3 separate regions of the Homo sapiens genome follow, and regions 2 and 3 are each linked to region 1. Evidence: fine-mapped expression QTL. A gene starts in region 1. Each other region holds a variant in brackets. All regions are shown on one strand. Distances are between the middles of the regions. Region 1 holds the start of SEC22A (SEC22 homolog A, vesicle trafficking protein). Region 2 overlaps SEC22A (SEC22 homolog A, vesicle trafficking protein). Region 3 has its middle 19 kb from the start of MIR7110.

Region 1 (2,763 bases):
CATTTCTGGCTTTGCCTGACGCAACTGCCTCCAAATGGCTTTCCAGCAGCCCTTCTTGCCCTTTTCCACACTATTCTCCACAAACAGCCTGAGTGATTCTTAAATATGCAAATAGGATCCTACTTAATAGTCTTTATTAGCTGCCCATTGACCTTGGGCTGAGATGAGACAAGGGCCAGACCATGCTGACTCTTATTGGCCACATTACAGATTTCAGGCTGTATTTTGGAAGATATCTTAAGGTCAACGGGCAAAGTTTCTCCTTGCTCCCTACACTCCATCCACACTGACTCCCTTTTAGTTCCTAGAGCACAAGAAGTTCTTTCATGCCCCGACAACCTCACACAATATTTCCTTGGCGGGGAACATTCTCTAAGGCTCTTCAATATGCCTGCCGCTTAAAAGGCACTTATTCAGAAGTCTTTTCCCTGATAGTCCAAAATTAATTGATCATTGCACCCACTAATTTTCCCTCCCAATACTGACAATTTGTAGTTCTGTAACTATTTATGCTTTAATATCTCTTGCTCCAATTACTCCTTAAATTCCATCAAGTGTTATGTCCACTCCTGTAACCCCGTGCTTAACACGGTGCTTGGCACATGGTAAACAGTCAGGAAATGCCTGTTTAATAATGCATGACCGATGCGAAGGCTGGAAGGGGTCGCAGGGTCAGCATCTGGCACTTCTCTGCCATGGTTAGTTTCCTTCTTGTGTGTGGGAATAGACGGGGCCAGGTCTTCTCCTTGCTCACCCAGAGGGGGCTTTTCTCCCTGTCCCCTTTATAAGTGTCTGCTGTAGGGCCGCGTGTGAGAGACAAAATGCCTGCAGAAACAGGGCGGCGAGCGGAAGAGATTGGCCCTATTTCTGAAGTCAACGTAGTTCTGTCATCAGAGGATGCTGTACTTTTCTGGCGCAGGTGCGAGAGAAGCTGCCAATCTCTCCTGGAGCGGGTGGGACTAAGGAGGGCCCCGGGAGCTGGGGGGTTGTTGTGTCCTTCCTGCAGAACCCGATTGGCCTGGGTGAGCTGAGGGAACGGGGGCGTGGTTTGATTCCGCGGGCGCGAGCCACGTTGGACGCGCCGCAGCGTCGCCGAAAGGTCCCTCCCAGGCCCCACAATGCACTTCGGGGCGCGTCACTCGGAGCGGCGGGTCCCGTCTCGACAGGTACTCCCCGGCCCCTCCCAGTCCTCTTCTTCCTTTCTTAGGGGTCGTTCGAATCCCTGCCGGCCTCTCCCCTCCCGCTCCCTGCCTCTCGCCACAGCCTCGGCCTTCGCCCTCGGGATTGAAGACCTACCCCACGGGCAGGAGCCAAGTCCGTGCCTTTGGGATGGGAGTCGGGGCCGCGGAGCTCTGGAGGGACGGGCAAGCGGGGACCCCGTCCCCTTCGACTTGAGGGTTCTCTGGGGCCAGGCGGGCGGCGGTTGCGCCTCGTCTGAGCCGCCTCGGGTGTTGGGCAGCCAGGAAAGGAGTGTTTGAAGGGGAGGGACAGTCGCACTTGGCTGTCAGCATGGTGGTGGGGATTCCCTGGCGCCCAGGTGTCAGAAACACGGTGATCTACCTGTGTAGGTGGCCCATGAGAGCTTGAGGTGGCATTTCCTATTTCTTTTAGGCAGAATGGGACTTGAACCAGTGTCTTACTTTACGTTTTGTGGGGATGGAGTGAGCCCTGAGCCCAGATATTTGCCCGCGTTGGCTCACGGAAATCTCTTGAGACCCTGTCTCAAGAGTCACTTTGGGAACGATGTGGCAGAAGGGAGACCTGAGCAATTGGCTCGGCAAGTGGAGGAGGCTTCCAAAAGAAAAGGACAAGCCCCAGCTGGCTTGAATCTCTCTGCCAGTGAAGACAGCTTAAGATAATTTTTCCCTGCTGCTTAGTTTCCTGGATCATCCACCTGGGGCAGGGGGCGAGCTTGAGAACCAGTCCCTCCTATGCCTATTCAGCCAAGGCAAAGCCTAGCCCAGAGCAAAAGTATCAGCCACCAGACTGGAGATGTTGGGATCTTCAGTCAGGGGAACAGCCACTTTTCAAACTCTGAATCACTTTCCATGTTACTGATATTTGCTTACATGCTAAGATTGTAAGGAATCAGGCAATGCCTTAAACGGTACCTACAATTTCTGATATATTAAGGTTCATTCAGTATTTGACTCTGACACCTGTGACCATATCCTAAAGTAATGGGACATTCGGGTATTTCCTATGTTGAAAACCATCACATCTGTTTAGTGCCTTTTTTTTTTTTTTTTTTTTTTTTTTTTTTTTTTGCGTGCAACTGGTTAAAATCGAAGTATATCTTATGTTGGTATATGAAAGAGGCCTAGGTCTTATCACAGGGGTGCCTGTGACCTTCCTTGAGTGTCTCACAGAGTTGTTAGAATTGGGCCTGAGTTTAAATCCCTACTTTGTCACCTACTCGTTTAGGGATTAAAAAAAATTCCTCAAGCTTTCTGGGCTTGAATTTCCTCAAAGGTAAAATGGAACTAATAATACCTATCTCACAGGTTTTTGGAACGCTTAAATGAGGTAATGTGTATAAAGTGCGTGGTCCATGGAGAGTAATCAATAAATAATACAGCAAATATTTAATGTAGTGCTTTTAGCATGTTACAAGGCAATGTTTCAGGCACTTTACATGATCCTATGAGATAGATACTATTGTCATCTTTAAAACAAGCCTATGAGATAGATGCTATTAGTAGCCACAATATATAGATGTGGAAATTGAGATATAGAAAGGCAAAGCTTGTCCAAATTTACATG
Region 2 (2,763 bases), 73 kb after region 1:
TAATGGTTAAAACAGAATTTTCTTGTAAATAGGGAAGTTGGAGCATTCTGGTTGAGATTTTGCTCTGTATTGACACAGCTCGCACCAGTTTGGTTCAGGAGCTACCTCCTTGTCATTGAATTGACGAGTTACAATGTTTGGTATTCGGATACATTCAGCAAGAACACTTGAAAACTCCTCACCAACTATTTTTAAAGGCTTACTTTGTTTTTGTTTTTATTTTTTCACTGGCTATTTTGGATAAGAGGATGTTTACATCTTAATGTAAAAAAATGAAAACAGGTATAAATGTTTTATGTATAGAAATGTTTTCTTTCATTATTTGGTGCCTGTATCTCCGTGTTTATATCATTTCCCCACCTGTATCATTGCTGCCAAAAAAAGAACTTTGAATTTAGAAAAAGAAATTGGTGTAAAGTCCTGGCCGGGCACGGTGGCTCATGCCTGTAATCCCAGCACTTTGGGAGCTCAAGGTGGGTGGATCACGAGGTCAGGAGTTTGAGACCAGCCTGGTCAACATAGTGAAACCCCGTCTCTACTAAAAATACCAAAAAAAATAAGCTGGGCGTGGTGGCAGGCGCCTATAGTACCAGCTGCTTGGGAGGCTGAGGCAGGAGAATCGCTTGAATCCAGGAGGCGGAGGTTGCAGTGAGCCGAGATCACACCACTGCACTCCAGCCTGGGTGACGGAGTGAGACTCTGTCTCAAAAAAAAAAAAAAGTCCTTAGGCTCTTTAGAAAGAATCACTTTAGGCCTCCATGGTGTATGATCTTCTGTTTCTATTGCACTTCTAAGAGCAAGCCTGAGTTTACCTCCTCATAGTTTTGTAGCATAGGAGCAGTAGTAGCTGCCCTCACTCTAAGGGGGAGGACACAGAGGTGATCAGATGGTAATGACTTAGCCAGTTCACATAGCTAAGCACACACAACCCTGATCTAGTGCAGGGCTCTTCGCACTAGCATGGAACTAGTGAAGGTGACCAGTGTTATATTCAGGGAATATGACTGTTCTTGGTAAAGCCAAGGAGTTGAGGGGTTCTGAAATTGGTGAGTCCAGGCCTGCTGCTGGAGTATTTTATCCTAATAGGTGTATTTTATTTTAATTTAGATAATTCCTAAATACTGCTTTTTGATTAAGGTGTACCATGAGAGCGAAGATACCCTCTTTTATATACTAAGATAATTGCAATATTTGCTTGCTTTTTTCAGTCTGTATTTGAAATATATTTACATTAATACCTGGCCTCTTTCCCAAAAGCACTTGAAGCAGCATACCAAGAAAAGACATATACAGCCATGTTAATGAAATATGAACAGAAAGGGAAGAAAAACAAATGAAAATTGAAGGGAGGGTTTACATACATTATTGTATGTAAAATTTGACTCTGGAACTTTCTGGAAATCAAGGCTAAGGGTAGGGAAAGAAGTTATGCACTGCCCTATCAGTAGGTGAAAAGCATACCAGTTCCTTAGGGGAGAGCCTTTCCTGATGCCTTCTAGTAAAGGTGTTCTCACTGGGGGTCCTGTGAAGTGCTAAAATGAACAGAATTCTCGATTTTCACACATTTACATGTTATGATTGTGCCTTGGATCCTTACCTTGTACCAGCTTTCAAAGGCTTCCATTTCAGGATTTGGGGGGATTTGTGTAGGTGTGGTTAATAAAGGATTTTGTTTTCATAGGTAAGAATCCTAAGCTGAAAACAAGTATTAAGCTTGAAAATCATTTGAGACAAATGCCTTAAGACA[T/C]GGAGAACCTTTACCCAATTCTGTATTACAGAATTATAAGATTGAAAGTGAGTGTGCTATCCTTGGATTGGCACATTTATATTGCAGTAAATGTCTCCACAGTGGAATCTAGTGTGGAGAGATGGACAGCTCCATTTCTGTTAGGCCACGTGTGGAACCCCATTAGACTCCTACTTCATCAGGGCTCCACAGAGACCAGAAGTTTGTCATAAAGGACCTAACCTCCGTGGCTTCTGAGGTCAGCTGCTCCCCTAAAAGGCAATTGCTTGGCCTTCATTTCAAAAGGTTTACTAAGTGACCTAAGGTCATACTCTGAGCTGTTGGGTTTCCAAGGAACTCAACAAAGGTTGTGTGTGTGTGTACACCTTCCTTGTTACTATTTTAACAGACTTTTGGCTCACTGTAAGAGTTAGAACTTCTGTGGAGTGTGTGGTAAAAGAACACATACGTTCAAGAGCAGCCACCACTCAAAACCTCATTGAACACTTAGCCTTAACCACAAGTTATAGGTCACTCTTTAGGGCCACATTCTTTGTCTGTGTTCAATGCTTTATAGTATTTTTCTGCCTTATCTCTAAGGAACCAAAGTCTTTCTCCCTAAAAATGCTGTGGTAAAGTAAGGTCTGATTTTAGGGTTAAATTGGCTTTAGTAATAACCTCGCTAAAAGTTAACAAAAGAAACCCAGCTCCAAGGGTTGTGACTGAGTTTGTGTAAAAGGGCTGAGTGAGCCGAGAATGTCACTCTGAGCATTACCGGTAAGGTTGGAGGTGTGTGATCATTAATGTTCTGGGGCTGCTGTTGAATGCTGGCAGATTGCGGCCTCCTGTTTAAGCATCGAGTTTTTCAAAGAGAAAAACTGGCTGCCACTCTTGTCTCTTTCTTGAGTGGCTGAGTTTTCTAGGTTATTTAGTAGATGAAATCAAAAGAAACGTGGAAACACTGTGTGGTTGGAAGCCACGTGGCGCATATGCTCCTGCTTGTTAACAGTGAGTGGTGTTGATGCGTGGGCATTCAG
Region 3 (2,763 bases), 22 kb before region 1:
ATAAATGCAGGTCAGCAATAGGAGTAGGAATGGTAGAGGTATTAGTGCTAGTGGTAGTCGTCATAGGGCATCCATAGTGCAAAAAAGGTTATGAACCACCACTCTCAGCCCACATCACGGTTGCAAGGCACTCTCTCTGCAGGTTGGTAGGTTGTCGTAAGTGAGGAGGTGGGAGAAGATGCCTCCCCAGTTCATACGGCTTTTGCAGAAAGTGTTGAAAGAAGCATTCTTTTGGCTTTCCGGGCATTTTGAATTCCTAATTCTGATTATTTTTTTTTTTCTCTATGCTTAGGGGAGGCCAGAGGGAGGCCTTTCTCTGAGCTCTGCGGAGGCCAGTAGGTAGAACATTTCTTTCCATTTTGCTGCTATGTATATTTGTTTCTTTCACTTTCTTTCTTCTTTTTAAAATTCACACCAAAATAAATGATTGAATTTAGACTTTTTTCCAACTTAATAAAATTACCTTGGGTTCAAAAACTATATTTGAGAGGTATAAAGTAATGGACCTCAATGGAATATGAGGTTTATCACTATCAGGTCTGTCTTATTAGAAGCCTCATATATTCTACCATTTTACAGAGCTCTACATAATTAAGGAAAAATTAGGCTGAGTTTTTGCTCTTTTTAAACTTAGATTTGCTGTCTATAAACACATGGTCACATATTCTAGAGAAATTCCTTCATATGTACAAAAGAGGATGTGTTTGAGAATGTTCGAATCAACGTCGTTGGTCATCACAAAAATAAATTTTAATCATGCAATTAAAAACAGGTGGCAGTGGAGTTGGAATGAATTAGAGCCATAGTTATTAACAAGAAAAAAATCACTGAAAATTAAAAAGTTGAAAGATATTGGGAGTATGATCTCATTTATACAAAGCTTAAAATCTACAAAACAATACTATTGTTTTGGATGCCTCTATGAGTAGTAAAAGCTAAAAGAGTTGCATGGGAATAATAAACACAAAATTGAGAATAGCGGTGATTTGGGCAGTGAAAGAATGGAGGGGAATGGAGTCAGGGAAGTGCCTTCAACCGTATTTGTAAGATTTTAATCTGAGGGCTGGGCATAGTGATGTTCTTTATATTATTTTAATGGCTTTTCATGTATTATTTCATACTTCATAAATTATTTTTTAAAGAAAAAATGTGGAGGCATGCAGTTTGTTCTACTATTCTCTCTACTTTTCTGAATTTTAACATTTTTCAAATTAATAAAATACTATATTTTAAC[G/A]TAAACTCTACATGCATAACTTCCCCTTTTTGTCACCTATGTTTTAGTACTCAAATGAATTGAAGGGAAGATAGAGTGAGGTAGTGATATTATTTCAGAAGTAGTGAACCAAGGCCTCCTCTGCTGGAACTGGAACTTGAAATAAATTAGGTTTAGTTCAGTCTGGAGTATTAATTGGATTTAATTATTTATGAGCTAAGTGTCATAAGGGTCCATGATCCTTAAAAGAATTAATCACATTTCAAAGGGCATTGAAAACCATATAAACGCAATAAAGTTGCATAGTCTATTCATCAGCACATTACCTTAAAGTCCTGTGGAAGAAGCAGTCTATTTAACATTCTAAAAATTAGTCCAGACTTTTGTATCAGACTTTGTGCAATGTCATTTACTACCCATGGGAAAGAAATGATTACACACATACCATAACACAACACATATTTCATAAAGATACAGGCGTATTTAACAACATATATATGAGATACATGGGTGGATGACTACCTGGAAGGTGGAGGAGATTGGCTAAAAATAAAATAAAATGCCTTCTGGCAGGTCTGGCCGGATTCCCACTGGATTAGCCCGCTTCTAGAGGCCGTGTGTCACCAGCATTGGTGACCAGCACTACAGTTGCATCCATCTTTCTAACAAAGACAATCCACAGACAAGCCCCATCACTTAAGCTCGTGGCCAGGACTGTCCAGGATGTGGCCCTCAGTTCTGGTTCTTCTGTAAAATCTACAACCTTCATAGTGGTTGGCCACAGAAAAAGAGAACGTTTTCCTGATGGAATGTATTAGGAGAACACCACTCTAGGGAGAACAATTTACTTTTTTTTATCAATCCTGAAATAAATCAGTGACAAAATTCAGTCAGACTCTGGCTGTTTATATTTCTAGGAACCTAAGGAATTGCCAGGTGACTCCATGTGAAGCTACCCAGGTACCAGGATCTGAACGTGTTAACACTGGACACTCAAAGTGGACAGAAGGGCAGACAGGCCTGGAAAGATTGCTCCATGTCCAGCAAATTCCCTGTGGCCTCATGGTGTTGCTTGTAGGTCTGGATAGACCCTCCGTGGTTTCTGCCCATCATTTTTGCCTGGCTCTCACGTCCATGGACCACCTCTCCAGAGAGCTGCTCTCATCATCCTTCCAACCTGGGGACACGATTAGCACTGCCAGGACAGGTAGCCCCTCTCTTGGCTTTTTTTTTTTTTTTTAATTTACAGATTCCCTTTTGTCCCCATGTGCATCTCCCTCACCAGTGTGTGAGATGTGTCTGTAAGTAAGGATACGAATGTCCTTAAGAATATGTGATGTCATTGTGTGTACTGATGCATTTCAAGTAATGCGAATGGCATTGGGCTTAAAAATGATATAAAGAAAGAGAGGGGTTTTAATGGACTGGTCATGATAATTTGCTATGAATTCAGGAACTCTTGAAATGATTATGATGAACTCTCTGCACTAAGGTTAAAAAACAAAAAAACCAGATCCCTTGACCTTAAGGTCAAGGTTCTCTTCTTCATA

What was found. PIP is the estimated chance that this variant, and not a neighbour inherited with it, causes the effect.
Region 2: its variant is the best candidate, but not a certain one, in a credible set for the expression of SEC22A in whole blood (INTERVAL, PIP 0.83).
Region 3: its variant is the best candidate, but not a certain one, in a credible set for the expression of SEC22A in monocytes (TOPMed, PIP 0.77).

The regions. Positions count from the first base shown.
Region 1 is chr3:123,200,821-123,203,583 of GRCh38, forward strand. It overlaps SEC22A (SEC22 homolog A, vesicle trafficking protein), which reads left to right and starts at 1,123. Exons shown (of 7, transcript NM_012430.5): 1 at 1,123-1,166. RefSeq lists enhancers at 680-829, 840-919, 1,160-1,209.
Region 2 is chr3:123,273,831-123,276,593 of GRCh38, forward strand. It overlaps SEC22A (SEC22 homolog A, vesicle trafficking protein), which reads left to right. Exons shown (of 7, transcript NM_012430.5): 7 at 1-306. Among named protein-coding and RNA genes, the nearest start is that of SEC22A, 73 kb to the left of the region's middle. The variant T/C (reference allele first, on the strand shown) is at 1,748.
Region 3 is chr3:123,179,199-123,181,961 of GRCh38, forward strand. No RefSeq gene overlaps it. Among named protein-coding and RNA genes, the nearest start is that of MIR7110, 19 kb to the left of the region's middle. The variant G/A (reference allele first, on the strand shown) is at 1,235.